Homo sapiens: one gene and its partners. The protein of the gene in region 3 interacts with the protein of the main gene of each other region in a biochemical or structural test. Each region holds a gene or a part of one and is shown on either strand. Other genes may lie near its edges.

Region 1 (7,252 bases), on a different chromosome or scaffold from region 3:
AGTTGCAAAGCCTGCCACAAACGAGCTCTGTGATTAAGCACGTGGTATTCAGATGTGGCTTTTTAAGCTAGGCAATTCATCTTGGGAACATTGACACATGGTCTGAAAAGCAAAATATTACTCTTTCAGCTATAAAAAAACTCCCGGAATCCTCATTCAGTCCCGCCCAATCCCTGATCCTTATTCTGTAACTCCCAATTCTAACATAGGGCAGACACTTAACTTTTTAGTTGACTAAATAAATAAGGGAATGAATACTGAGGATAGAAAAGGGTTGGAGGTGTCAGAAATGAAATGATGGTCAAGGAAAGAGAAAGACTCAGATGTATAGGGCATGGAAGAATGTTCAAGAATCAAAGATGTCTGCCACTAACATTTGGTAATCAAAAGCCATGACAAGCAAATGTGGCAATATATCAGTATCTGCTCAATCTTGGTAGTGAGCGTAGGGTGTTTGTAATATTCTTTATAGTTTGGTGGGTTTAAAATGTTTCCTTTAAAAAGAACAACAGTGCAGTAGCAATCTCAAAATGGCCAAATCAAAATGAGTGCATTAAATTGGCAGCATTCAATTCACTTGCTTTGATGGGTGAATCCTCCCCTTCATCAGCAGAACTGATTTGACTGTGGTAAAAACAGTTCATTCCCACACACAGATAGACCAACACAGCCCTTTTGGAGAGCACCCATATATAAGAAAAGCCATAAAATATTCATTTCCTTGGGCTTTGTACTCCTGGTTCTGGGAATTTATGCAAAGGCAATGATAATTTGAAAGGAAAAAGGATGAAAATATGTAAATTCTATGACAATTTTTTAATAACAATGAACACTTGGGAAGGATTTAAGGTGTCAGTGGGGAGTGCTCACCACTGCCCCCACCCTGGTCAAGCCATCCTAAGCTGTGCCTGGATGGCTGTGTGTAAGGAACATGGCTGTGCTTTGGTCAAGGATAGGACGAGGTAAACATCCACAGGGACTCAGCGAGTTTAGAGCGCAGGCATATAACTCCACTTGTTATCACAGCTATGTAGCCATAACATGGGAAGGCCATCCCTTGGCTCTAAGCCACTATTGTCTGTAAAAGGTATAATTGCCCTGTTGACATCGTGCAGGCGTGCTGACACCCAGAGAGAGAGAGAGAGAGCCAGAGTTGACCCTCTTGGAGACTGACAGTGGGGAGCCAGGACACAGCTCGGCTTGCTCATGCCCAGAGAGAGGAAGAGTTAAGCTGCTGACCCCGAAGGCAAGGGAGAGTCGGCCATGCAGCTGTGTGGGGGAGCCGCCAGACTAAGCACCTGAGACAGGGCAGACAGTGTAGAGAGCTAGTGTAAGAAAGCTGTTGATGAGAGCTGCTGCTGAGTAAAATCATCTTTTACCTGCCTACGGTCCCCTGAGTGTTCTTTCTGCTCATCCACCCACTCCCCTTGGACCTCAGCATGGGCTAGAACCTGACCCCAAGCATGACATTTGGCTCAGTCGTGAACCTGACATTGTGGTAGCCTCCACGTAGTCTCTGCTTCTTGCCCTTGCCCCTGCCATCTACTCTCCACTTAGCAGCCAGAGTGATCCTTTCAAAATGAAATCAAACTGCTTCCTTGCTTCATTTCAAAATGCTCCCACCACCCTCACTGCTCCACCCTGGTCTGAACCACAACCTCCTGGGGCCTGGATATAGCAATACCTCCCTAAATGGTTTTCCCTCTTCCATCTTCTTTCCCCTTAGCACAGAAGTGAAAGTGCTTCTTTTCAAATCACAAATCAGATCATGTCACTCTGCTCAGAACCTTCCAGTGGCTTCCCGTCTGACTCAGCACACCCATATGACTCAACACACAAGGAGATCATCTCCTTCCAGTTACACTGAGCATTTTTATTGGTTGCTGACTGTACTCATAATGCTCTCTCCTTATATCCACACGGTTCACTCCCTCACTTCCTTTAAGCATAAATCAAATCCCTTATCTTGGTATTGACAAGACAAGGACAGACTCCTCCAAAGTGAGCAGGGAGGTCATGACCACCCTAGCTTAAATTTTACCAATCCATACAGCCTCATCCTACTTCCCTGTTTTATTTTTTCCTCTTAGTATTTATCATCTTCTAATAAATTAAATAACTTAGATATAGCCAGGCGTGGGGGATCATGCCTGTAATCCCAGCACTTTGGGAGGTTGAGGTGGGCAGATCACCTGAGGTCAGGAGTTCGAAACCAACCTGGCCAATGTGGTGAAACCTTGTCTCTACTAAAAGTACAAAAATTAGCTGGGCGTGGTGGTGTGTGCCTGTAGTCCCAGCTACTCAGGAGGCTGAAGCAGGAGAATCGCTCGAACCCGGGAGGCAGAAGTTGCAGTAAGCTGAGATGGTGCCATTGCACTCCAGCCTGGGAAACAGAGTGAGACTCCGTCTCAAAAAAATAAATTAATTAATTATTTTTTTAAAATAACTTAGATATAGCCGGGTGTGGTGGCATGCGCCTGTAATCCCAGCTACTGGGGAGGCTGAGGCAGGAGAATCACTTGAACCTGGGAGGAGGAGGTTGCAGTGAGCAGAGATCGTGCCACTGCACTCCAGCCTGCGTGACAGAGCGAGATTCTGTCTCCAAATAAATAAATAAATAAACTTAGATAAAATTTTTCAAGTGCCTACCTCGTCTGCCCCAAACACAAATAAACTAGAATATAAATTCCATGAGGAAAGAGATTTTTATTGGTTTTGTTCACAGCTGTTTTCCTAGCACCTAGAACAGTGTCTGGCACATAGTGGACATTCAAAACACATTTGTTAAATGAAAGGATTCATCCTAAAGTTAAGGATGGTTCAGTAAATCGGATGGAAGATGATGAAAAATTAAGCAATTAGAAAAAAACTGTCCTTGTGTAATGTGTCAACATGGAAACAGGACATAATGTAAACATCAGAATCCCTTGCTGTGATTCTGGTTTTTGTGGCTCTGGTTACATTGTTTTTTTGTGTGTGTTTTTTTTTTTTTTTGCTTTCCCGTTTCTTAAACATTGGCGTTCCCAAGTTTCTCCTTGGTCCTCCTGTCATTTTTATCTACTCTCGTAGCTTCAAATACCATCTAGTTTATAGTTTATTTAGCATGTTGTCCAAGCCACCGTCTTGGGCCCAGGGCTCTACCTGTAGCTTTTCATCCACACTTCTCAGGTTGCTTCTTACACAGCGCCATAGTAGTTAAAATACGGTCTGGGGATAGTCGTCTCTTCATCAGTCTCCCCCTATAAAATGGAGGACTCATAGTATAAGTTGCCTAGAACATATTAGTAAGGACTCAATAAATGTTTGAGTAGGATGAGCTGGGTGGCTCATGCCTGTAGTCCCTGCACTTTGGGAAGCCGAGGCGGGTGGATGGCTTGAGCCCAGGAGTTTGAGACCAGCCTGGGCAACATGGCGAAACTCCATCTCTATAAAAAATACAAAAAAACTAGCTGGACTCCCAGCTGCTTGGTGGCTGAGGTGGAAGGATCGCCTGAGCCCTGGAGGTGGAAGCTGCAGTGAGCCGAGAATCGCACCACTGCACTCCAGCCTGGGCGACAGAGTGAGATCCTGTCTCAATAAATAAATAAATAATCAGTTGAGTGCATACTGTGTGCCCAACTACCTTTAAGAACTTTACATATGATCCCGGCAGCCCTAAAAGGTAAGCATATCTATCTCCATTACACAGATTAACTAATGAGGAAAAGCTATGTTTATAATGAACAGTGACCAAAAAGTATGCAAACGTTAAATGAGGTGTTAAAGTGGTGGGATTGTAGGTGGTTTCTTTTTTTCTTTCAAAAATTTGTTTAGTATTGTAGTTAGGCTGTTTGTGTGTATGCATGTGTATGTGTGTATGAGTGCGTTTGTGTGTGACCAAAACAGTAACTGGCAAACGTAACAACAGGAAATTGTAGGGCAGGGTCTGGGAAAAGGGGAGGAACCCAAGGTACTGACAAGCCCAGACCGGACTCCCCCGAAGTGAGCAGGCAGCAAAGGCTGAGAGTGCCAGCTGCCTGGGCACTGACGGACCCCACCCACGGAAACGATGCCTTATGAGGAAGCTAACCCGGGCCACTTACCGACGACCTGCGCAGGCGTGGCTTGAGGAAACGCCCGCTGTGGGCGGAGCCACCCGAAAGGCTCCGGTCGGGGGCGGGAACAGGATCGGCCCGCGGGCTGGCGTCGATAGGCTGCCGCAGAGACAGGGCGGGCTCTGCTAAGCGACGCGCCTCGCCGTGGGGCGGTGCCTGCGCCTGAGCCTCTACGAGAGGGAAGGAACGCTGCTCCGAGCTCCGCGTCGCGTCGCGTAGATTCGCGTCGCCGTCGACCTCAGAGGCGGGGCCGGAAGCGCTACGGTTTGACCCCCGAGTCCCTCTGTTCCCGAAGGGGCGGCCGTCTTTCTCCCGACCCGCTCCGCCTCCTCTCCTTCTTCCCCATTACCCGGAGGCCGAAGCCCCCAGCCAGGGCGGGGCGGCGCAGCCCGAGCTCCCGGACCCGGAAGAAGCGCCATCTCCCGCCTCCACCATGGAGCCCACCGCACCGTCCCTCACCGAGGAGGACCTCACTGAAGTGAAGAAGGACGTGAGTAACGCAGCTGTGCCCAGGGCGGGCGGGGGCGGGCTGCAGCCCAGCGGGAGACGAAAGCGGAAGCCTGGAGTCCGAGGACAAGGAGGATCCTCCAGGTCGGAGGAGCGGAAAGTCCTAGCACAGGAGGACTGTGGCGAGCCCTGCATCCGAGGGACCTTGGTGGCAGTGATCCTCCAGTGATCTGTCAATCCAGGTTTTACATCGCTAAACGCAGAGCTTGGGCTTTGTTGCCAAGTGGTGTTTTGATTCTTGCCCACTCCTCACCCATCTCCTCATGCTTTCCCCCCAACTGGGTTCTTGGAGATGCTTCGTTAGGGACTGGCGGCTCAGATTCATCCTTAAGTCAGGCTGCCTAGGCTGCTCACTCAGCCTAGAGCGAAGGCTGTACCAGGTGAAGGATCCCAAGCAGTGGACCAAAAATGTGAAGCTCTTTTGCATAAGGGGGCTTGAGGAAGCTCAACAGCTGAAAGCACAACCTGGAATTCCCCTAGTAAGCAGACGCCCACATATTTAAATTGGGGTTGGGGGAGTGAATACACGTAGCTGAGAATTAATGTACAGGTAAACGTCGAAAATATTCAGTAGCTAAATTATGCTCTTCTCGGATGGTGCAGAACCACATAAACCTTCATATTTATTCGTAACGAATGGCTTTGTTGAGATATGACATTCTTTTTCCTTTGCGTTTACTTGTTTTGTCAGATGAGACCTATATGAGTATCACTAAAATACTTTATCTGAAGTCAAATGAAAAACAGAAACTCAACATGAAACGTGTTCTTATTGAACACTGCAGTACTTTTACAAAGTCATTTTGATGAACTGGACAGGATGGCAACTTTTTAAATGTTCATCCACTTCAAATCCCTTCCTCTTCCCTGTAAGGTTTATTACACTGTACTCACAATTGGTGTGACTCACCAGCAGAAGGAAACTGGATATGACTGGGAGTTGTGCTTAGTTTCCTCATTCAACAGAGATTTATGGAGCACTTGCTATATGGAAAGCACTGGCCTTGGGTCTGGAAGGATACAAAAAAATGAAGATCAGTTTCCTGCTTTACATTCTAGTTGAGATAAGAATGGAACATAAATAACTACTGTAGAATAAATGTTGTCTTATTCATGGTGAGTGCCAGTAAAACCTTGAACTTCCAAGAGCTAGGCCTCCTATGTTCCAGATGCTGTGTCACACAGTTTACAATGTTCCCACTTAACCTTCGCAACAACCTCTAAAGAAGATAATTGCCATTCCCATTTTACAGCTAATAAAACAGGAACTGAGAAATTACAAGTGGAAGGAAATAAGATCTGTATACAAGTACAGATGTGAAGAGTGGCTTCCAGGTCTTTGTTCTTCTCTGTCAATTCATTGATGTTATCTGTCTTCAGGATTTCATTTTACGCCTATATCAGAAATAAATAACCTTGAGGAAACCATGGATGGGTTTCAAAAGGTCTATGAAAGAAACTATGTGCATGCTTTTTTCTTAGAGGTTTTTTTCATGATATTTTCAAAATGTCTTCTGATCTTAGAGAGTTTTAAAATTATCCACATATTTGGACTTTTCTCTCCACTCTAGGTCCTTATTTCCAAATGTCTACTGGAAATCTACTTTTATATCCTACAGATTGCTCACCTTGTCAAATATTGAACTTTTACTATCCTTTTCCCAAAGTTGCTTACTGTTGCTGCTGTATTGCCTTTCTTGATGAATGGTGTGCTACCACCCTTTGTCTTGGGACCTCCCACTTCTTTAGTGTCTCCCCCTCCTCCTATCTAGTTATTTGCCTCATTGTGTTAGTTGGATTTAGTACAGTTTAATAAATATGGATTACATGCTACTGTGAGGCTGATACTGTGGTTGGTTCTAACAGTTCAAAAATTAAAAATGAAAACACAATCCTAACTTGAAAAGAGCTCAATTTCTTGAGGGGGATTGTTTTAAATCACAAAATAAGTGCAGTGAGTTTTGCATTCAACTGAAACATTAACTACTTGGTGCCCTAGTAAGTGCAGGATATACAGTGTTGGCTAAAACATACCTCGTAGCTGCCTGCTTCAAACAGAGACGTTAGTTTAAAACAAATAAATAAATTTTGTTTTCATTATTGCAATTACTATGAAGGAATCAAACAGTGCCAAGACAATAATAGGGGAAATCGACTTGAGATAGGATGGTCAGGAGAGGTTATATTTAAACTGATTCCTGAAAGATTTGACAGAACTGAGGGAAGAGCATTCTGGGCAGAATAGAATTTGTCAAGGACCTAAAATAGGCAAGACCCTGGTGACTTGGGGAAATCGGAGGAAGGCAGAGGGTAATCTGAAGTGAAGTTAGGAAGGTGGGCTAGAGCCATTTTCATGAAGAGCCTTTTAGTAAAGTATCTGGGGTTTTTTTCCCCCCAAGTATAGTAGGGACTTGTTGAAGAATTGTATAGTTTAAAGATCCCTCTGCCTGTTTCATGGACTGAGGAGAACAAGAATAAGAACAGGGAAGCCAGTGAGCAGGCTCTTGGAATCTATAGAGATGAATGAGGATGGTGATTTGGATCAGGGTGAAGGCAGTGGAGATGAATGGAGCAGAATTCCAGATGCAGTTTTTGAAATAGAAATGATATGACCTGGTGATGGATTGAACATGGGAGTTGAGGAAGAGGAT
Region 2 (7,024 bases), on a different chromosome or scaffold from region 3:
AGTGAGCCGAGATGGAGCCACTGCACTCCAGCCTGGGTGACAAAGTGAGACTCCGTCTCAAAAAAACAAACAAAAAAACCAAAATAAAAGAAAAATAATAGACAAAGAACATAGACAATTCAAAAAAGAAACTGAACAACATACTTCAGAAAAGATATTTGGCCTCGCCAACAGAGAAAGGCAAAATGAACCCGTTACAATTTTTCATCCATTAGATTGAAATTTTTGAAAGATTAGTGATACAGTGTGTTGGTGAAAATGCAGAATAACAAGCAGTCTTCTGCAGTGTTGGTAAGAGTGGCGAAGTTTATTAGAAGGTGAGGCACCCAACAAACTCCACAAGCCCATAAGTTTGGCTGCAGTTCTACTCTCAGTAATCTATACTGCTCACGTGCACTCAAAGATGTAGTTTCCATTCTTTGCACCTTAGTTTATAAGAGTGAAAAATTAGAAACAACTCAAATGTCCATAAGTAACTGCCCTAAATTATGATTCATCTAAACTACAGAATACTAATAGCCATTTAAAAGAAAGAGGTGGAAACTAACATGTAATGATATAGAAAGATCTTCAAGATTAGCTGTTAGTGAAAAAAATAAGTCACAAAACAATACTTACAGTGTGGTCCTTTTAATGTTAAAGATATATATATTTTGGCCTGGTGCAGTGGCTCATGCCTGTAATTCCAGCACTATGGGAGGCGGAGTTGTACAGATCACTTGAGGTGAGGAGTTGGAGACCAGCTGGCCAACATGGTAAAACCCCGTCTCTACTAATAATACAAAAAAAACTGGCCAGGTATGGTGGTGCATGTCCATAATCCCAGCTACTCAGGAGGCTGAGGCATGAGAATTGCTTGAACCCGGGAGGTGGAGGTTGCAGTGAGCCAAGATTGTGCCACTACACTCCATCCTGGGCAACAGAGTGAAACTGTGTCTCAAATATATATATATTTCTGGAATGTGTGTGCAAATTCCTAGAGAGAGAATAAGAGTGATATGCATCACACTCTGGATAAGGCTTACCTCTAGAGAATGGAAGAGTAGGTGCTGAAGGAATGTTTGGATGTTATTCTATGTGATTCTGCATTGTTTGAATCTTTGGGGGTTTTTTTGGTTTTCTTTTTGAGACGGTCTTACTCTGTCACCCAGGCTGGAGTGCAGTGACACAATCTGGGCTCACTACAACCTCCACCTCCCGGGTTCAAGTGATTCTCGTGCCTCAGCCTCCCGAGTAGCTGGGATTACAGGCGTGTACCACCACACCCAGCTAATTTTTTTGTACTTTTAGTAGAGATGGGGTTTCACCATGTTGGCCAGGCTGGTCTTGAACTCCTGACCTCAAGCGATCTGCTCGCCTCGGCCTCCTAGAGTGCTGGGATTACAGGCGTGAGCCACCATGTCTGGCCTGTTTGAATCTTTCAAAAGGACTTTGTACTTAACATATTTGTGTAATAAAAATAACTATAAAAAGAAAATCAATTTGATAAAATTAAAATAACAAAAATACTTTTCATATTAGGCTAAGCAGGGTGGCTCGTGCCTGTAATCTCAGCACTTTGGGAGGCTGAGGTGGGTGGATTTCTTGAGGCCAGTTCAAAACCAGCAACATGGCAAAAACCGATCTCTACAAAAAACACAAAAATTAGCCAAGCGTGGTGGCGCATGCCTGTTGTCCCAGCTACACAGGAGGCTGAGGTGGCAGGCTCTCTTGAGCCTGGAGGTTGAGCCTGCACTCTAGCCTGGAGGACACAGTGAGACTCTGTCTCAAGAAAAAAAACAACAAAAAACCCTTTTCATGTTAATTAAAAACAATAAACATACAGCTGGGTGAGGTGGCTCATGCCTGTAATCCCAGCTCTTTGGGAGGACAAGCTGGGAGGATTGCTTGAGCCCAGGAGTTGGAGGTTTCAGTGAGCTATGACCATGCCACTGCACTCCTGCCTGGGCGACAGAGGCAGATTTGATCTCTAAAAATAAACATGCAAAGAGACAAAAACAATATATAGAATGCTACAAAGTGTGAACATAATTAATACCCTCTGTCATTCTCCCCTAGATCATGCATGTATTCATTTAGCTAGTATTTTTGACCACTTATTTATATAGCAGACAATCGTTAACAGCAAAATACAAATAAAACTAGGAAAAAAAAAACTTGAAGGAAAAATACCAAAGTGTTAACATTTTATCTTTGGGTGTAGGGCAAAACTATGGATAGGTTTTAAGAATATATAATTTTCTATGTTTTCTATAATGAGGATTATTGCTCCTATAAGGAAAAAGTTTTTTACTGTGGCAAAATATACTTAACATAAAATTCTCTATTTTAACCATTTTTAAGTGAACAATCCAGTGGCATTAAGTACATTCATAATGTTGTGCGGCCATTACCACTATCTATATCTAGAACTTTTTTATCATCCCAAACTGAAACTCTGTACCTGCTAAACGGTAACTCCCCATTCCTCCCTCTCCCAGCCCCTGGTAGCTTCTATTCTGTTTTCTGTCTCTGAATTCTAGGTAGCTCCTAGCAAAAGGATCACACAATGTATTTCCTTTGGAGTCTGGCATATTTCACTTAGCATAATGTTTTCAAGGTTCATCTGTTTCATAGCATGTATCAGAATTTCATTCCCTTTTATGGCTGAATAACATTCCATCATATGGATATACAGGTTGAACATCCCTAAACCCAAAATCCAAAATTCAAAATCCTCCAAAATCTGAAACGTTTTGAGTGCCAGCATGATGCCACAAGTGGAAAATACCACACCTGACACCTCTGCTTTCTGATAGTTCAGTATCCTCAAACTTTGTTTCATGCACAAAATTATTAAAATATGGTATAAAGTGACCTTCAGGCTATGTGTATAAGGTGCATATGAAACACAAATAAACTTCATGTTTAGACTTAGGTCCTCTCCCCACGATCTGTCATTCTGTACATGCAAATATTCCCAAATTGGAAACAATCCAAAATCCAAAACACTTCTAATCCCAAGCATTTTGGATAAGGGATACTACACCTGCACCATATTTTGAGTTCCTGCCTTCAGTTCTTTGGGGTATATATATCCGGGTGTGGAATTGCTAGATCATATGGTAATTCTATGTATAACTTTTTGTTTTTCTGAGACAGAGTCTCCCTCTGTTGCCCAGGCTGGAATGCAGTGGCACCATCTCGGCTCACTGCAACCTCCGCCTCCCGGGTTCAAGCGATTCTCCTGCCTCACCTTCCCGAGTAGCTGGGATTACAGGCATACACCACCACGCCCGGCTAGTTTTTTGTATTTTTAGTAGAGATGGGGTGGTTTCACCATGTTGTCCAGGCTGGTCTCAAACTCCTAACCTCAGGTGATCTGAGGTCCCAAAGTGCTGGGATTACAGGCGTGAGCTCCCATGCCCGGCCATGTTTAACTTTTAAGTACTGTTAAAATTGTTTTACATGGTAGCTACACCATTTTATATTCCCCACCAGCAATGCACAAGGATTCTAATTTCTCCACCATCTTACCAACACTTTTTATTTACCATTTTTATATTATAGTCACTCTAAGGAGTGTGAAAGTGTACCTCATGGTGGTTTTGACTTGCATTTCCCTATGACTCATGATGTTGAGCATCTTCATGGCTTATTGGCCATTTGTATATCTTCTATGGAGAAACTGCTATTCAAGTTCTTTGCCCATTTTTGAATTGGGTTGTTTGTTTTTTGTTGTTGAGTTGTAGGATTTTTTTTTTTTATGTTCTGGATTTCATCCGTTTTCAGATATATATTGTTTGCAACTTTTTCCCCATTATTTTATTTTATTTATTTATTTTTTTTTTGGAGACAGAATCTTGCTCTGTCGCCACCCAGACTGGAGTGCAGTGGCAGAATGTTGGTTCACTGCAACCTCTGCCTCCCAGGTTCAAGAGATAACTCCTGCCTCAGCCTCCCGAGTAGCTAGGACTACAGGCACACACCATCATGCCTGGTTAGTTTTTGTATTTTTAGTAGAGACAAGGTTTCACCATGTTGGCCTGGCAGGTCTCGAACTCCTGACCTCATGGGATCCACCTGCCTTGGCCTCCCAAAGTATTTTTTCCTTATTCTGTAGGTTATCTTTTTACTCTTTTCATAGTATCCTTTGATGCACAGAAGCTTTTAATTCTGATGTATTATTTTTACTCTTTACTTTTGTTTGTGCTTTTGTGTCATAACCAAGAAATCGCTGCCAAGTCCAATGTCATGAAGCTTTTTCCCTGTGTTTTCTTCTAAGAATTTTTGTGGCACTAGCCCTTAAATTAAGTCTTTGATCCATTGTGAGTTAATTTTTATATGGTATGAAATAAGGGTCCAACTTCATTATTTCATATGTGTATATTCAGTTTTCCCCCATCGAATGCTCTTGGCAACCTTGTCAAAAATCAATTGGCCATTTATAGGAGGGTTTATTCCTAGGCTTTCCATTCTGCCCCACTGGCATATGTGCCTGTCTTTATGCCAGTCCTACGCTGTTTTGAATACTGTAGCTTTGTAGTAAGTTTTGAAATCAGGAAGTGTGAGTCCTACAACCTTGTTCTTTTTAAAGATCATTTTGGCTATTTGGGAAAAACATTAATTTTAAAAAATTACTACTTGTAAGATCTGTGTGAAATTTCTACCTTCTGAAAATATGAATTCTTCTCGTTAAAATTTTCTGGGACTCTATTTCCTGCTGTTCACTAAAGTGTGTATTTATGCTCTTAATTATAGAAAGAGTATTCAAACGAAAATGCAGTTGTGAAGAGAATGCAGTCTCTTCAACTTGATTGTGTGGCAGTACCTTCAAGCCGGTCAAATTCAGGTAAATTACACTATGGTCAAAATCTATTCATTTATTTGTTTGGTTACTCATTCACTCCACTCTCTAAAAGACTATTCAGGACCATATGGGAAACAGAAGAAACTATAAAAGTGAACACCTGCCTTACAGGAATTTATAATAATATTCGAGAGTCAAGTTACATGTATTTGAAATATGAAGTAACAGTGTGCTCACCAGTCATAGAGTGTTCTGAACAAAAGGCCTAATATATCTGATGGGGAGAAGTGACAGTTCAGAAGAAGGAAGGGGACATATGTGAGAGCAAAGTCCCTGAGGAGCTCGGAGTGACTTACAGCCAGGGTACAAGCAGAGAGGCTGGTCTCAGGTCAAGTAGGGATACTTTTTTCACTGTAACAAAAGGGATGGCAGAGTATAGGATACTGAAGCCGCTTAGCTACCTGATCTGTGGCTAATTACTTAACCTCTTCTAAACTTCACTCATCAAATCATAATTGCTCCTCCTCTCATAGGGCTCTTCAAGAATGAAAGAATTCATGGGACATGCTTAGGACAGAGCTGCTGCAGATCTTTTTTTTTTGGAGACAGAGTCTGTCACCCCGGCTGGAGTGCAGTAGTGTGATCTTGGCTCACTACAACCTCCGCCTTTCAGGTTCAAGCGATTCTTCTGCCTCAGCCTCCCAAGCAGCAGGGATTACAGGCATGCACCACCATGCCCGGCTAATTTTTGTATTTTCAGTAGAGATGGGGTTTCGCCATGTTGGCCAGGCTGGTCTCGAACTCCTGACCTCAGGTGATCCGTCCGCCTCAGCCTCCCAACGTGCTAGGATTACAGGCGTGAGCCACCGCACCCAGCCACAGATCTTATTTTCCACCTGAATTGCTCCAAGGAGACAACCACCTTCTCTGCTCCAAACCAAGTCCCTTTTTTCCTTGATCATCCCTGCAACAGCCGCTTTTCTCTTGCTTGCTATAATTTTCCTAGTACTCTCTTACTGCCAGCGAGGAGCTCCTATTATTATTTGTAAAGCTTGTGGGAAGAGGACCATCTCCTAAATGCTTTGGACTGGTCTCGTACTTGTTTTCTGTGTGTTACTTTGAGATACAGATTCATGACGGCGCTCAGATTTTATTTTACTTTTTAATGTTTCATGACACCCATTCTAATGTTGATCATTTCTTCTCAGCCACAGAACAGCCTGGTTCACTGCACAGTTCCCAGGGACTTGGGATGGGTCCTGTGGAGGAGTCCTGGTTTGCTCCTTCCCTGGAGCACCCACAAGAAGAGAATGAGCCCAGCCTGCAGAGTAAACTCCAAGACGAAGCCAACTACCATCTTTATGGCAGCCGCATGGACAGGCAGACGAAACAGCAGCCCAGACAGAATGTGGCTTACAACAGAGAGGAGGAAAGGAGACGCAGGGTCTCCCATGACCCTTTTGCACAGCAAAGACCTTACGAGAATTTTCAGAATACAGAGGGAAAAGGCACTGCTTATTCCAGTGCAGCCAGTCATGGTAATGCAGTGCACCAGCCCTCAGGGCTCACCAGCCAACCTCAAGTACTGTATCAGAACAATGGATTATATAGCTCACATGGCTTTGGAACAAGACCACTGGATCCAGGAACAGCAGGTCCCAGAGTTTGGTACAGGCCAATTCCAAGTCATATGCCTAGTCTGCATAATATCCCAGTGCCTGAGACCAACTATCTAGGAAATACACCCACCATGCCATTCAGCTCCTTGCCACCAACAGGTAAATGGGTCTTCGATAGTCACAAGCTTGTCTTTTTTTATTTTTCAGAAAATACAGCAACCAAGCAGCTCTATTATAGATTGTGGGTTATAATGGGGACAGAGGGCATCATCAGCTGCCAGATGCAAATTGCCCCTGTGGAATGGACCCTGCCAAACCACTTGGTCTGGGAGTATTTCATCTGGGGCTAGGATTCATCACAGATGCCCGCAAGCATCGGGTTACAGGTCCTTGTGACTGGCAGGCATCTTTGACTCTAACCTGGAGTGCATAGTAGTCCTATTTCACCCAATCTCTGATAAATGGGAAGTTATCTGCTTATTTGCTTTTACCTTGCTTGCTACTTTTTGAAGGTAAGAAATCAGTCTTGGATATTTTTGTTTCTGACCTTATATAGCTCAAAGACTACCATTAGTGATGAAAAATTTTCTTTTAACTCCCATATCTCTATCAGGTG
Region 3 (7,024 bases):
ACACGGCTGGCCTCGCGGCAAGGACGCTGGCTGCCCCGTCATCTTTCACCTGAGCCTGCACTCGCCCCCTCCCGACTCCCTCCTTCTCCCTTCGCAAGGCCAGGCCGCCTCTGCTGGGGCGGGAACGGAGCTCAGCTCTCTCCCCCGCAAGCAGGGGTTTCTGAAGAAGATCTCTTTTGCCAGCTTGAACAAAGGCCCGCTTTTGTGTACCTTTGTGTATCTCCGGTGTTCTTGTCAAAAGAGGAGGACAGGCACAGAGGCCCGCGGGGACAAGGCCACAGGATGACGGAGATGGAGGCTGGAGAGGTGCAGCCGGCGGCCCCCGGCGCCGTGGAGAGGCCTGGAAGGCAGCTCCCTCGCGGCCCTGGCGGGGAGCCCACCCTGCCGACACCACCGCTAGCTCAGCCTCCAGGCCTCCAGAAGCGGGAGGCCACGCGTTTCTGTGGCTTCGGCCCCGCAGTCTGTGGTGCTTGGTCACGGCAGCTGTAGAAAACTCATCCACTTCCCACACAGGAAATCAACGCCTTAAGCCAGGCGCTCTAAGCCCTGAGTGGAGCGGCGTGCACAGCCCACCATCCACGCCTTTCCCCAGGGGAGTGGAGCCTGGCTGTGGCAAGTGCCAGGTACCCGCCAGCAAGTCTCCTCTCCAGCACTTCTCTCCACCTTGCCCCTCAAAGGGAGCACGGCCCCTTCCTGACTACCATCGCCAGGATCCTGCGATCAGCCAAGCCCACACACAAAGACCCTGAAACCAGGCGGTCTGTGCTAATGACACGATTTATGGGGGGAGCCTTGGGCCACACAGCTGGACCTCTGGTGGCTACAGCCGAGTGACCAGGGTTGGCCACGCAGGCGCTCGGTGCCCACGCGGCCCACCCCCCGTGAAAACCCCGGCCGCCACGGCTGGGGTGAGCTTCCCGGTTGTGACTCCGTGCTCGCTGTCCCACACTGTTGCCGAAAGAAACAGGTGCCGTCTGCACAACTCCCCTGGGCGAGGAGCCGCTGAAGCTCACGCCTGGTCTCTCCTGGAGCCCGCCCTGTGCGCCCTGAGCCTTCGCTCACCGTAACCTGTGTCCTTTCCTTGTAATAAACCGGAACTGGGAGTGTGACGGCTTTTCTGAGTTCCGAGCCCTCCCGGCACAGCACTGAGCCCCAGGGTGCTTTGGGGGACCCCGACCACGGGTTCCCTTGTGGAACACTGGCGTCACCGCGGGTTTTCAGAACCTGGCCCTGCCCCGACTACCTGCTGGCATCTCTTCAGGTGCTCCACCTCCCGCAGAGCCTGCTCCTTCTGCCTCTTCAGATCGAGCTTCTCCAGGCCGAGTCTCTCCACCAGTTTCCTGGCCTCCTGGAACTTGCACATGAGGAACTCCTTCTCCTCCCTCTGGCTGGCTTGGAAATGCAGAAGCTCCTCGCAGCGCTCCCGCAGAATCTGGTTGCTCTGCCGGATGGCATCTGGTGGCAGAGGGGACAGTGGAGGGGAGCTGGGCAGCCCGGCCTGCCGGGCCCTGCCTGGGCCCACATGGGCCTGAGGCTCAGGAAGTCAGAGGCCAGAAGTGGGGCCACCCATCCTGGTGCCCCCACCCGCCATAATACCACGCAGCTTCTCTCAGGGGTGGATGGCGTCTCAACACTCCCTTTTGTTTCTTTAAACACTTCCAAAATCCTTTACACTAATGCCCCTCACTTTCTGCAAGAAAATAACACCAAACACATCAGCTTCACTTAAAAGTACGTGTTGGCCAGGCACTGTGGCTCATGCCTGTAATCCCAGCACTTTGGGAGGCCAAGGTGGGTGGATCACCTGAGGTCAGGAGCTCCAGACCAGCTTGGCCAACATGGTGAAACCCCGTCTCTAATAAAAATACAAAAATTAGCCCGGTGTGGTGGCACACGCCTGTAATCCCAGCTACTTGGGAGGCTAAGGCAGGAGAAGCACTTGAACCTGGGAGGTGGAGGTTGCAGTGAGCCGAGATCACACCATTGCACTCCAGCCTGGGGGACAGAGCAAAACTCTGTCTCAAAAAAAAGAAAAAAAGTATGTGTTAAATGCCACTTTTTTGAATTTTTATTTTTGTAGAGACAAGGTCTTGCTATGTTGCCCAGGCTGGTCTCACATCGTTGGCCTCAAGCAATCCTCCCACCTCGGCCTCCGAAAGTGCTGGGATTATAGGCATGGGCCACTGTGCCTGGCCTTATGCCACTTTGTTTGTAAGTGACTCGAATTCATTTGTATTCTGGTCAGTCTGAGGTGTGCCTGCCCTCAGATGCTCGGTATTGGTCCTCCCTGGCCTACATCTCTGCTGTCTTCTAGATCGGGGGTCCTAACACGCCTGCAGACTCCTAGGGTCAGCCTCCCAGGCAAACTTCACTGCAGCATTGCTGGCTGCAGCCTGAGAGGCCCAAAAGGCTTGGACCAGGCAAGTTAGTGGCGTCTCTGAGCCTCAAAGTCCTCATCTGCATAGTGAACAGAGACAAGAACATTCATCTTACAAGACGAGGAGGGTTAAACGAGGAAGCAGAAAACAAACGGGAAAAACCGCTGGTCCTCCCCTCACCAGAGCATGTGTGCCAGTGCCAGGCAGTCAGCAGAGGCCACAGGAAGGAGAGCCCCACACCCAGGAGACACCCCAAGTAGTGAAGAAGCCATCTGAGGTGACAAAACTGATAAGTGATGTGCCAAGGTTCTAGCAACTCTATAGCAACTACAGAGCTGGATAAAATGGGGCAGGCAGTAGCTACCCCGTGATCAAAACCCTCAACCAACTAACTATTGCCTGCTGACGAGCGCAACATCCACCCCCCATCAGAATCCCGCTTGCTCTGCCCAAAGCTCAGCTCATCTGCAACTTGTCTTTTTTTTTGAGACAGACTCTCGCTCTGTCGCCCAGGCTGGAGTGCAGTGGCGCGATCTCAGCTCACTGCAACCTCCACCTCCTGGGTTCAAGCAATTCTCCCTGCCTCAGCCTCCCAAGTAGCTGGGATTATAGGTGCCCGCCACCACGTCTGTAGCTAATTTTTGTAGTAGAGATGGGGTTTCACCATGTTGGCCAAGCTGGTCTCAAACTCCTGACCTCAGGTGATCCCCCCGCCTGGGCCTCCCAAAGTGCTCGGATTACAGGCATGAGCCACTGCACCTGGCTGGCAACTTGTCTTTTAAAAAATGTTCTGAACTGAGGTAAAATTCACATGACATCAAATTCACTATTTTAACTAATTCAGCAGTTTTCGGTGTATCCATCAGGTTGTGCAACCATCCGCACTATCTAATTCCAGAACAGTTCCGGGACCCCATAAGCAGTCGCTCCCCCAGCACCCTCCTCATCTGCATCTGCCTCTGCAGATTGGCCACTTCTGGACATGTCTCACACTAGTGGAGTCACACACTAGAGACATGCAACTTCTTCGTGAATCTCTCCCTCAACATTCTAAGTACAGCCTCCTCCATGGACATAAGCATGTACATCTTGGGGGACAGACATCTTCTGGGCCCTTAGGGGCTTGGCCCAGGGCCTGACACATGGAGCTACCAAGTTTCACCTGCCACCCACAAAGCTCAGGTCAGGCGGAGCAGGGGGAGTCAATACAGCCTTGAGGCCTCCTTGTGTCCCTGGAGCCCGAGGGAAGCTGCTGCACTGAACACACAGCCTGGAAGGGAAGCAAGGGCGCCATACGCTGTGCCAGGGTCCCTGCACAGCTGGCCTGCAACACTCACCCTCAAGTCCCCCTCAATAGAGCACTCTCCTGGGGATGAGCAGAAGCCCCCAGTCTAACTGTCACCTCTCTGTGCACCAGTGCTTTGAAGATCCCAATACAGTGGGTCTCACCAGGGACAACTGTATCCCCCAGGGGTCATTTGGCAATAAATATCTGGGGATATTGTTAGTTGTCACAACAGGACAGGTGCTACTGGCATCTAGCAGGTACAGGCCAGGGACTCTGCTCCACACCCTACAACGTACAAGAGAATTCTCCAGCCCCAGGTGCCGATGGCACTGAGGTGGGGGACCCTGTCCTGGAACAGGCAGGTCATGTTGGGTCTCCATGCTCCAGCAGGGCCTCTCCAATTCAGCCTCACCGTCGAGGAGACCAAGCAGCCCCCTGACAGCAAGCTGACTGCACTGACCCCTTCCTCCATGGAAGGAAAGGTGATTTGCCTTGACAGTAAGAGGAGACACATCGCAGGCATGGGTCTTGTCTCTGCCCACGGGGTGTCAGCCAGAGCCACTCTCTGAAGCCTACAGACTATGTGACTTGTCAGCACAGAGCCCCACATAACATCTCGGACCACAGTCCAGCAAAGAAGGCGGGGGAGTGGGCCCATGACAGCGATCTCTAGTAGTCACGGCACATGCCACCTCGCCCAGGAGCTGCCAGCCAGCCAGGACACGGAGAGCCAATTGAAGCTGCCAGCTCAGGGATGACTCCTGCAAGGAAGGGGTGTTGTCCTCCACGATGGGGTGGACACTTAGGCCTGAGTCCCCAGCAGGAACCAAAGGATGAAACAAAAAGGGCTACAGGCCCCACCACACCCAGTGAGCCATGTGGGGAGTCTATGCCGCCCCTCCCTGCAGCTCTGGGACCCGAGGCTTAGAAGGCCCCCGCAGCAGAAAGGCAAGAGTATATGGCGGGTGCCACCTGGCCCCGCCAGGCTAACCCAGGGCAATGCAGAGCAGTGGCAGGGAGAGGGGGTGAGGGGGAAGAATGGCAGGGGCTGGGGGTGCCATCACGCCCAGGGCGCGGGCAGGAGCGTGCAGCTGAGCCCTGAACCCATGACGACCTGGAGCTGAGCAGCAAGAGGGTGAGGGGCGCCCGGATGGCAGTCTAGGAAAGAACTCCCCAGTCCCAGCCACTGGGTGTGGGAAGTCAGCCTTCACCTCCGCTGAGGTGTGCGCCGGGATTGCCCCAGAGGAATGTTGCCTGTGGGGGCCACGCACCTTCCTTCCCAAGACAGACCACGCCCCTCTACCAGGGCATGCCCCGCCCATTTCCAGGACAGGCCCCACCCCCTCTCTGGGCAGACCACGCCTCTTCCCAGCGCCGACTCTGCCCTGTCCCAGGATGGACAGCACTTCATGAGTGCTCAGTGCAGGGACACAGAGGCCTGGACATGTTGGTCCAACCTGGAAGGTTCATTCCAGCTCCAGAGCTCCCTGTAAGATCCAGCAAGGCTGTCCTGGAGCCTACCCGGCAGCGTGCTTCTCCCTCTGCCCTCCCTGGCTTCTTCCCCTGTCCCTCCTTTCCCTTCCCAGTACTGGTCCTGAGAGCATGCTAAACTTCCTCCCCGCTAATCTGCATCTCAGAGTCTACTTCCTGAAACCAAGAGGGAGGGCAGCACATCCCCACCCCAGGCCCAGGAAACGCAGAGGTGCAGGTGGGGAGAAGACGCCTTCCCCTCAGCAGGGCTGGATCCCCTGACTCTTTCCTCACCTCGGAGCTCTTGATTCTCCTCCAGGCAGCGCTGGAGGGTCTCAGGAGCGCCCTGTTCTGAAGGCAGGTGCAGCATGGCTGGCTTCCCCAGAGGAGACTCTTCGCCCAGTACGTCCTGATCTGCTGCCGGGCCACCACTGGGCTGCACCATCTCACACAGTTGGCTCTTCCAGAGGTGCCTATTCATCCAACAGGGCAAGGGCTGAAAGAGAAAGGCAGCAGGGGAGTCACAGGAGACCCACATCCTTACCCAGCAGAAAAAGCCTATGAGTTCTGGGGCTACATTTTAAACAGAATGCTGATAATTCACCTAGTGTATCAGGATGCTAAAGTGGGTTTTCAGTCTAAGGGGTAGCAGATACTCCCATTCCAAAGGGAGGTGCTGGACCACCCATGTGGGACTTGAAAAGGCCTAGCTCCAGGCTGGAAATAGAAGAATTTCACCAGAGATGGGAGAGTCGGGACAAGACTGTTTGTGGAGGGAGATGTCAGTATGCTGGGAATCCTGATCCCCTACACACCTCCAAGCAGGAGAAGTGGAGGGTACCGGCCCCTCATCCAGTGTAGTGGGCTGAATGGTAGCCCCCCGAAAAGATATGCCCATGTTCTAACCCCTGAAACATATGTGATTCGGGAAAAGGGTCTTTGCAGATGTAGGATCTCAAGATGAGATCATTCTGGGTGACGTGGGTGGGCCCTAAATCCAACAACGTGTCTTTATGAGAGACAGAAGAGAGAAGCCAGAGGGAGACGCAAGGGGAGGAGGCCATGTCGGGACTGCCTCGGAGACTGGAGTGAGGCAGCCACAAGCCCAGGAATAAATGGGGCAGAAGCTTGGGAGAGGCAAGGGAGGATTGCCCTCTTAGAGCCTTTGAGGGTGTGTGCTTGCTAACCCTTTGGTTTTGGACTTCTAGTCTCCAGAACTGTGAGATTAAAATGTCTGGCCGGGCGCAGTGGCTCACACCTGTAATCCCAGCACTTTGGGAGGCCGAGGCGGGCCAATCATGAGGTCAGGAGATCGAGACCAGCCTGGCTAACACGGTGAAACCCTGCCTCTACTAAAAAAAAAAAAAAAAATTGCCGGTCACGGTGGCTCACGCCTGTAATCCCAGCACTTTGGGAGGCCGACACGGGTGGATCATGAGGTCAGGAGATTGAGACCATCCTGGCTAACACAGTGAAACCCTGTCTCTACTAAAAATACAAAAAATTAGCCAGGCATGGTAGCGGGCGCCTGTAGCCCCAGCTACCCAGGAGGCTGAGGCAGGAGAATGGCGTGAACCCGGGAGGCAGGAGAATGGCGTGAACCCGGGATCGCGCCACTGCACTCCAGCCTGGGCAACAGAGCGAGACTCCATCTCAAAAAAAAAAAATACAAAAAATTAGCAGAGTGTGGTGACACGCGCCTGTAGTCCCAGCTACTCGGGAGGCCGAAGCAAGAGAATCGCTTGAACCCAGGAGGCGGACGTTGCAGTGAGCTGAGATTGTGCCACTGCACTCCACCCTTGGCTTTCAGAACAGCCCCTTCTCCTGGTTTCCTCCCTATCTTGCTGGCTACTCCTGCCCAGGCACTCTCACTGGGTTCCCATCCTTC
Region 4 (7,079 bases), on a different chromosome or scaffold from region 3:
AAAAAGAGCTTTTAGGTGGTCAGAGTAAAAGTCCTCAGACAGAATGTTCAGTTGCACTTGGAATTTCCCTTCCCTAAGAGATAAGCACATCTCAGAGATGGAAGACCTCAGCCCGTTATCCATGGATCAAAACACTGTGCTGGGCTACTGTGGAGAAAGCGCCTGTGACGTATCCTTGCTTGTGCGGATACCTGGTCCAGTTAGCCACTTGGCCTGGTGTTCATTCTGAATGCCCATATTCACAGGATTAGTGGGAAAATGGCTGGAACCATGGGAGGTTGGATGGACATCTGGGAGTTGCCATTTACTAAGATGGGGAGTGCAGAGGGATTGCAGGGGGTGGTGGTGGTGAATATCAGGAGTTCGCTTTTGGCTGTGTTGAGTGGAGATGCTGAGAAGGCAGTAGGATATAAAAGAGACACCAAATTTGGAGAGACTGCAAGTAGGAGGTACCCCGTGGTAGGCACTGGGAAGCATGGAGCAGGGTCTAGTCAATAATCATGACCGGTGCCACTGAGCAGGTTCCCTTGAGTCCTGACGGTGTGTTACTCTATGTCCCATGCCCCTAGCAGGCTACCTGGAGTTCACCGTCCTCCGTGGGGAAAGCTCCATTCAATTCAATAGCTTTATGTTAGGGTCCCGCTGTGTGCAATGAGAGAACTACATAAGACAGCTTAGAATCAGTGTTAGGTCAGGCACAGTGGCTCATGCCTGTAATCCCAGCACTTTGGGAGGCAAAAGCAGGAGGATCACTTGAAGCCAGGAGTTCAAGACCAGCCTGGGCAACATGGTGAGACCCTCATCTCTACTCAAAAGAGAAAAGTTAGCTGGGCATGGTGGTGCGTACCTGTAGTCTCAGCTGCTCAGGAGACTGAGGTGGGAGGATCACTTGAGCCCAGGAGACGGGGGCTGCAGTGAGCTATGATTGTGCCACTGTACTCCAGCCTAGGCAACAGAGTGAGACCCCATCTCAAACAAAAAACAAAAAACAAAAAAAGAACCAGTGTTATGTTCCCTGCAAAACCCTTCACAACTTCCCATTGCTCTTGGGATGGAGAACAACCCCTGTCCTTGGCTCCCAAGGCTCTTTTGTGCCTTCATTGTCTGCGCTCTGCCTCTTCCAGTTTCTTCAACAGGTCATGCACTTTCCTGTTTCCTATTTCTGGAGTGTTCCCCCTCACTCCTGCCTGCCAGTTATCTTTCCCATCTCATCTCAAAGGTGACTTCCTCAAACAGGCCTTCCCTGAGTGGCCAACCTCCCTTTAGGCATGCTCAGAGAGATTCTTCTTCTGAGGCTTACCACAGCCATAATTAAGTAAGTGATCATCTAATGAGTATTTTAGTTTGCCTTTTTTTTTTTTTTTTTTTTTGCCAGAGGGAGTGTGGCATCTCTCTTGTACACTGCTATGTTTCCTGGAACCTGCTCAGTAACACAACCGCTAGTTCCATGAACCCAGGACCAGGCTGGATGGAAGAGGCTGTGGGGTGGTGGATTGAGAGAGGTCATTAGTGAGGGCTGGAGCCCTCTGTGAAGACATGTCTGTAAAGGACTTTGACTAGGTCCTCCATGAAGGGAGGATTTGGAAGGCAGAGATGATGAGCATTTCAGTTGGGGAATCCATTTTAACAGAGGTGGAAAGAGTCTTGGCTTGGAATCAGGGTCTCGGCCCATCTCCTGAGTGACAGGGGCTTGTAATTTACTGTCTTTGGGCCTTCATCTACTACCTGTAAAATGAGAGGCTGGTTCACCAAGGACTGCAAATAATAGCACCATGACACTATCTCCCCATCTTATCCCCTGGCAGATATCTCTCTTCCCGGTGAGCCTGAATATAAGTTCAGAATTAGCTTTAACGCAATGTTCTAAGCAGCCATTCCCAATTGATAGGAAATGATAATTGAGATAAGCCCCATTTGTCAGGCTTGACTTGGATGAAGATCCCTTAGATGAAGTCAGGCCCCGGCACTGATTCAGTGAACGTATGACAGGACAGAGCCTGGGGACGAAAGCCCTATGGAAGTAGAGACCTCAGCAGCACCAAACACCATCAACAGAAAGGACACAAAAATAGGCCGGGCACATTGGCTCATGCCTGTAATCCCAGCACTTTGGGAGGCTGACGCAGGCAGATCACTTGAGGTCAGGAGTTTGAGACCAGCCTGGTCAATATGGTGAAACCTTGTCTCTACTAAAAATACAAAAATTAGCTGGGTGTGGTGGCAGGCACCTGTAATCCCAGCTACTTGGGAGGCTGAGGCAGGAGAATTGCTTGAACCTGGGAGGCGGAGGTTGCAGTGAGCTGAGATCGCACCATTGCACTCCAGCCTAGGCAACAGAGCAAGACTCTGTCTCAAAACAAAGAAACAAACAAACAAACACCCCAGCAACAACAACAACAAAAACAAAAAGAAGGGACATGAAAATATTCTAGTCCAGAGTGGCAAACTCAGATGCCTTAAGGGACCAGTGGATGTAGATCGTGCAGATAAGAGAAGTGGTCCCAGTGGTAACATGAGAATGTTTGCCTTGCCTAAAAGGACCCCAAATCTCTCTCCTTCACATTCTTTTCTCCTTCCTCCTTATCGTATGGGTTAGGCAAAAACAAATTTCAGCTGAAATTTTCTTCCAGACAGTTGGACTGTGACCTCTGAGTCCTACCAGCTTTGTTGGAGAATCCAGATGTAGATGAGAACGGTGTTGCCTAAGGCCACACTTCAAGCCAGGCCCGTTGATTTCCAACTTATGGCTTCCTACAGCAGTGTGGTCATGAAGCCTGGAAAACAGGAAGATAGGAGTGACAAAAGAGGGACAGGAGTAGAATGAGGCTTAGGTTTTCAAAAGATGCTCATTTCATTTTGGATGACTATGGCAAGGAAGAGTGGTGGCCTGTCTACTGCTACTGTTAGTCATCACTCATGTGACTGTTTTTATGTATTCATTGGTTTAAATTCCCTGGATCTCCAGAAACATGTCACTTTCCACTGGGGGAAATTTGTGTCATGATTAAAAACACACACACACACACACACACACACACACACACCCCTCCTCCTTTCTCAGTGTTAATCACCTTCTCCTATAATTAGCACTTAAAATGTCAAAGGAGAAGAAATTAATTAACAGGAGTATCCAGTGCAGCAAGGCTCTAGGACTGATTATAAAAAGCACTTCCTTAAATATTTTGAGTGCTTTTGGGAATCAGAAGCCTCCCTTCTAATTGAAAGATCCTTAACTACACCCTAAGTCCTGGCTGGTGGCCAGGGGTGCGGGGCTGAGTGAGGCGGCGTGTGGAAATCCCTTCTTCACCATCCTTGGGAAAATTCCCTCCAAACTGGGATAGGTGGCAACAGAGGTTCGGAAACAGCAAGCGTCCCAGGCTGAATCTGCGGAGGAGGAAGAGATGAACCTTTCCTGAGCTGGTACTGCGTGCCAGGAACTTTAGCTCGGTATTTTGCCACAATCCTGTAAGACAACCGATACTATGATCTCCATTTTACAGATGAGGACATTGAGGCTCAGCGTGGTTGTGACTTCCTCAGGTCACGCAGCCACTGAATGAAAGCGCCAAAGATTCAAACTGAGGTCTGATTCTAAAGCTTTGCTCTCTCACGGCATCCTGGAATCCTATTTCAACCTTCATCTGGACTCTTAACCCAGCCCAAACCTAAGCGTCTACAGTTTTGACAGCTGAGGCGGGAGCACGGGAGGCGGAGCTGGTGGCAGCGCAGCGCCCCGCCCCGGCTCCAGCATCAGCCAATGGTGACGCGGCACCCACAGCCTTTCGCCCAATCAGCTTGAGCTTCCCGCCTCCATCCGCCGCTCTTCTCTGCCCCGCCCCTTCGCTTTCCCTTTGGTTCCACCGAGCTTGACAGAGCGGAAAGTCCCTTCGGCCGGCGCCGGGCTGGCAGCCATTGGAGGAAGGTCTGTCACAGGGAGGCCCAATCACGGCCCGCTCAGGAGCGCAGCTCGGCCTACGATTGGCTAGCGCGGCGGCTGCCCCCTCCGCCCCCGCTCCCTCCCTCTTCCCTGTGCGGTTCGGAGGCGGGGCAGGTGGGGGCGGGCCCAGGTAGCAGGTTTGGCTGCGCGGGGGCCGCGCGTCGGAGGTAAATACTAGGGCGGTGGGTGTGGGGAGCCGGGGCCGGCCCGGGACGCGGGCTGGGGAGCCGGGGCGAGGGGCGACGCCCCGCCGCCCGAGGTTAGTGAATGAGCGGGCGGCTGGCGGCCGGCGGGCGGCCGGATCCCCTCGGCGCAGCCGCCTGGCCTCAGGGCGTCCGGAGCCGCCGCGGCGACCATCGGGCCCTCGGCGCCGGCCCGTTAGTTGCCCGGGCCCGAGCCGGCCGGGCCCGCGGGTTGCCGAGCCCGCTGACGTCAGCCCGGGTTTCCCCCCCCCACCGGGGCTTCCCCATCCCCCGAGGCTTCCCGGGAGGGCTGCGAGTCCGGGGAGCGTGCGGGGTCGCCACCATCGGGACCCCCAGAGGAGAGAGGACTTGGGGCGGGAGCCGCGCGGGACGCTGTCCCCCTCCCGCCCCCCACCCCATTTACAGATTGGGAGACTGAGGCACAGGCCGCTGGCGGGCCCCGACGGCCACGGTTGGCCTCAGGAGCCCGGGGCTGTGATTCCTACCGACCGCGCCGCGGGGCGTACGTACCGATCGATTTTGCGGGTGTTGGTGGCTCCCGTCCAGGAATGGCAGTCGGGGTTCTGGCCTTGTTAATGGCGTGTTCTGCTTTTTCTTTCAGTTTCCCCCTTTCTAGGGTGAGGATGGTTCTACACAGCCACCCGGAGTTCCTTAGTTGAAAGGTGCGCCCTGCTGTGACAGGTATTCTTTCTTTATGTTTTTCTTTCATGTTAACAATCGAGGGGGGTGGGGGGCGAATGGGGGGCGGGGGCGAAGTCATGAAATCTTCAGGAGATGGTGTTGAGTTTGGTACTCAGCTGGGTCAGCTGCCGGTTATTCATGTACTTGGCATCGTTTCTCTTCCACCCCTTGGCATTTGAATGTTTTAGGATAGTTGTCATCTTCCAGCCACCAAGCCTGTGGCCTTGCAGTCTCCCAGCCCCCATCATCCCTGCCACCTTCTTCTCCTCAATTTTTCCTGGAAAGTTTTATCCTTAGCTCAGCTAAGGAGCATGCCTACCTTGCTTTTGAATTCGGGCTAATTAGGGATCTTAATAAGATTGTTCATTTTGCAATCATTGGCTCTCAGAGAAGCACCCAGGCCTTGAGAGGGTGTTCGTTTGATTGTTGGCTTTCTACACACCCCCTCACGCCCCAAGTAGACTGAATGGCCTTAAGAATTTAGCCTCCCATTCCCCACTGAGCAGTAGGTGGATTTGAACTAGAACAGTATTAGGAGAAAATGATTTGCTGGAAATTCTTATTGAAGTAACACCCAGAACATTCTCTAATATTCTGCTGCAAAATTGTATAGTATTCTTGCAAATAAACCTTCCTCTGGGTGGTAACTTTTGTGAGAAGCAGATAAGGCTTGTTATATAAAGCACAACTAACATTAAGCAGCAATGATTTTTATAGTCTGGCACACCTAAACTGTGGTTTTGTTTGATTTAAGGAAGTCTCCAACACAGGGAGAGAGAAAGGAATAGTTATGTTGTTTATCAAACTATTAGTATTTTGTTCCTGATTTTCACACTATGATTTAAATTAGTTTTTTTTTCATTGGTTGTACAGAATTTATAAGCATCATACATGCTAGTTGAGGCTGTAGGAAGCTAGTATCAAATAAACCTCAAAACAACTTGGTTTCGTAATTGTGAAATTTTCCGTATTTGTTTCTTCTTATATGTATAACAATGAAGTGGTTTAGCATGATTTCATTTTATCTAGAGAATTACTGAAGTTTTAGGCAAAATTCATTAAATACTCCCAATTCCTGAGTCTTTTTCTCTTCTCTTTCTCTTGGTTTAATCCCTTAAACAGGAGGAGGAAATGCAATTTTGTTTTCACTGTTACCACTTGAGTCTTTCATTCATTTCTCTGTATTCAGTGCCTAGCATATGCCAGGCTCTCGTGTGGGCACTGGATAATATAAAAATGAAGGACTTGGGGAATTCACAGTTTGGCAGTGGAGTGGCTAGGTTTAACACTAGAGAGGCAGCAGTATTCCTTGTTCCAGTGGGAATATGCAGATGTGAGAGGCTCTTCTTTTCTTTTTTTTTTTTAACCTTATAAATCCCACTTGTATTAGGGACTGTGTACTTGTGACACAAATTAGTCATTGAGGAAAATTAAAACGGACTCAGTCTTTTTTCTGGCCACGGAATCTCTGTATCTCTATTCTTTAGCTGTTTAGAAATATAACAACTTTGTCTTTTAGTGAGAGATGTTCTCTTTTAAAAGGATGATCATTCTAGCTATCCAGAAGCTTTTGGAAAAAGGCCCACATGTCTTCTTTCTTTGGTGTTCAAGCTGACCTTCCTACCTCTTTGCCATTTATAATTAGGGGCAGAATTAAGTATTGTAAGTTTTATTCTAATTTAAATAGCTTCCTGTGGTTTTTAGAACAAGCAGGATATCTTTGGAGATGCAAAAAGCTCTTGAATTGGATCTGTCTTTGTGAGATCCTTATGAACAATATAACCTGATAACTTGAGAATCAGAAAAACACTGCATCTTCTGGATAAGTTAACCATTGTTAGTTTTCTGTAGCTACTGATGTTCATTTGTACTATATGTTGCCTTTCAGAATGTGGTAATTGTAATCTTTAACATTTTCATGTAAAACATATTTCCTGATCATCTTTCCATTGTCTTCATGGAAAATTGATAAATATTTGTGCCTTCCAACTCTCGTCTTGGTTGAATGACTTCATCTTAATACAAGTAAGTTCCCCTTTACTCAGAATCCAGACCATCAACAAGCTCAGATAACCAGAAATGTTTTCAAATCTATGTGAACCTGAACTGTTCTCCTTCATCAGCGTCCTTAAAGGAAAGGCCTTCTGTTCAACATGGCTTTAGGGTTAAACATATTATTGTGTTTCAACTCGTTGGTAATTTTCATTCAGTATTTATTACCAAGATATTCATAATCACACAGTTATCCAGCCTGAAGT

Evidence for each region.
Region 1: the proteins of IKBKG (region 3) and BCL10 form a complex in vitro, tested with the Homo sapiens proteins (3 studies listed by BioGRID).
Region 2: the proteins of IKBKG (region 3) and RIPK1 form a complex in vitro, tested with the Homo sapiens proteins (4 studies listed by BioGRID).
Region 4: the proteins of IKBKG (region 3) and CYLD form a complex in vitro, tested with the Homo sapiens proteins (3 studies listed by BioGRID, with this or other methods).

The regions. Positions count from the first base shown.
Region 1 is NC_000001.11:85,273,628-85,280,879, reverse strand, and holds the start of BCL10 (B-cell lymphoma/leukemia 10), read left to right. Parts: upstream 1-4,247; 5' UTR 4,248-4,527; coding exon 4,528-4,584; exon of another isoform or gene 4,585-4,864; coding exon of another isoform or gene 4,865-5,080; exon of another isoform or gene 5,081-5,714; coding exon of another isoform or gene 5,715-5,717; intron 5,718-7,252. UniProt on the Homo sapiens protein: Plays a key role in both adaptive and innate immune signaling by bridging CARD domain-containing proteins to immune activation.
Region 2 is NC_000006.12:3,099,485-3,106,508, forward strand, and holds part of RIPK1 (receptor-interacting serine/threonine-protein kinase 1), read left to right. Parts: intron 1-4,740; coding exon 4,741-4,831; intron 4,832-5,937; exon of another isoform or gene 5,938-5,997; coding exon 5,998-6,567; exon of another isoform or gene 6,568-7,024. UniProt on the Homo sapiens protein: Serine-threonine kinase which is a key regulator of TNF-mediated apoptosis, necroptosis and inflammatory pathways.
Region 3 is NC_000023.11:154,550,596-154,557,619, reverse strand, and holds part of IKBKG (NF-kappa-B essential modulator), read right to left. Parts: intron 5,633-7,024; coding exon of another isoform or gene 5,618-5,632; coding exon 5,431-5,617; intron 1,456-5,430; coding exon 1,244-1,455; intron 1-1,243. UniProt on the Homo sapiens protein: Regulatory subunit of the IKK core complex which phosphorylates inhibitors of NF-kappa-B thus leading to the dissociation of the inhibitor/NF-kappa-B complex and ultimately the degradation of the inhibitor.
Region 4 is NC_000016.10:50,738,021-50,745,099, forward strand, and holds the start of CYLD (ubiquitin carboxyl-terminal hydrolase CYLD), read left to right. Parts: upstream 1-4,065; 5' UTR 4,066-4,104; intron 4,105-4,135; exon of another isoform or gene 4,136-4,196; intron 4,197-4,284; exon of another isoform or gene 4,285-4,357; intron 4,358-4,394; exon of another isoform or gene 4,395-4,642; intron 4,643-4,650; exon of another isoform or gene 4,651-4,727; intron 4,728-4,741; 5' UTR 4,742-4,821; intron 4,822-6,709; exon of another isoform or gene 6,710-6,846; intron 6,847-7,079. UniProt on the Homo sapiens protein: Deubiquitinase that specifically cleaves 'Lys-63'- and linear 'Met-1'-linked polyubiquitin chains and is involved in NF-kappa-B activation and TNF-alpha-induced necroptosis.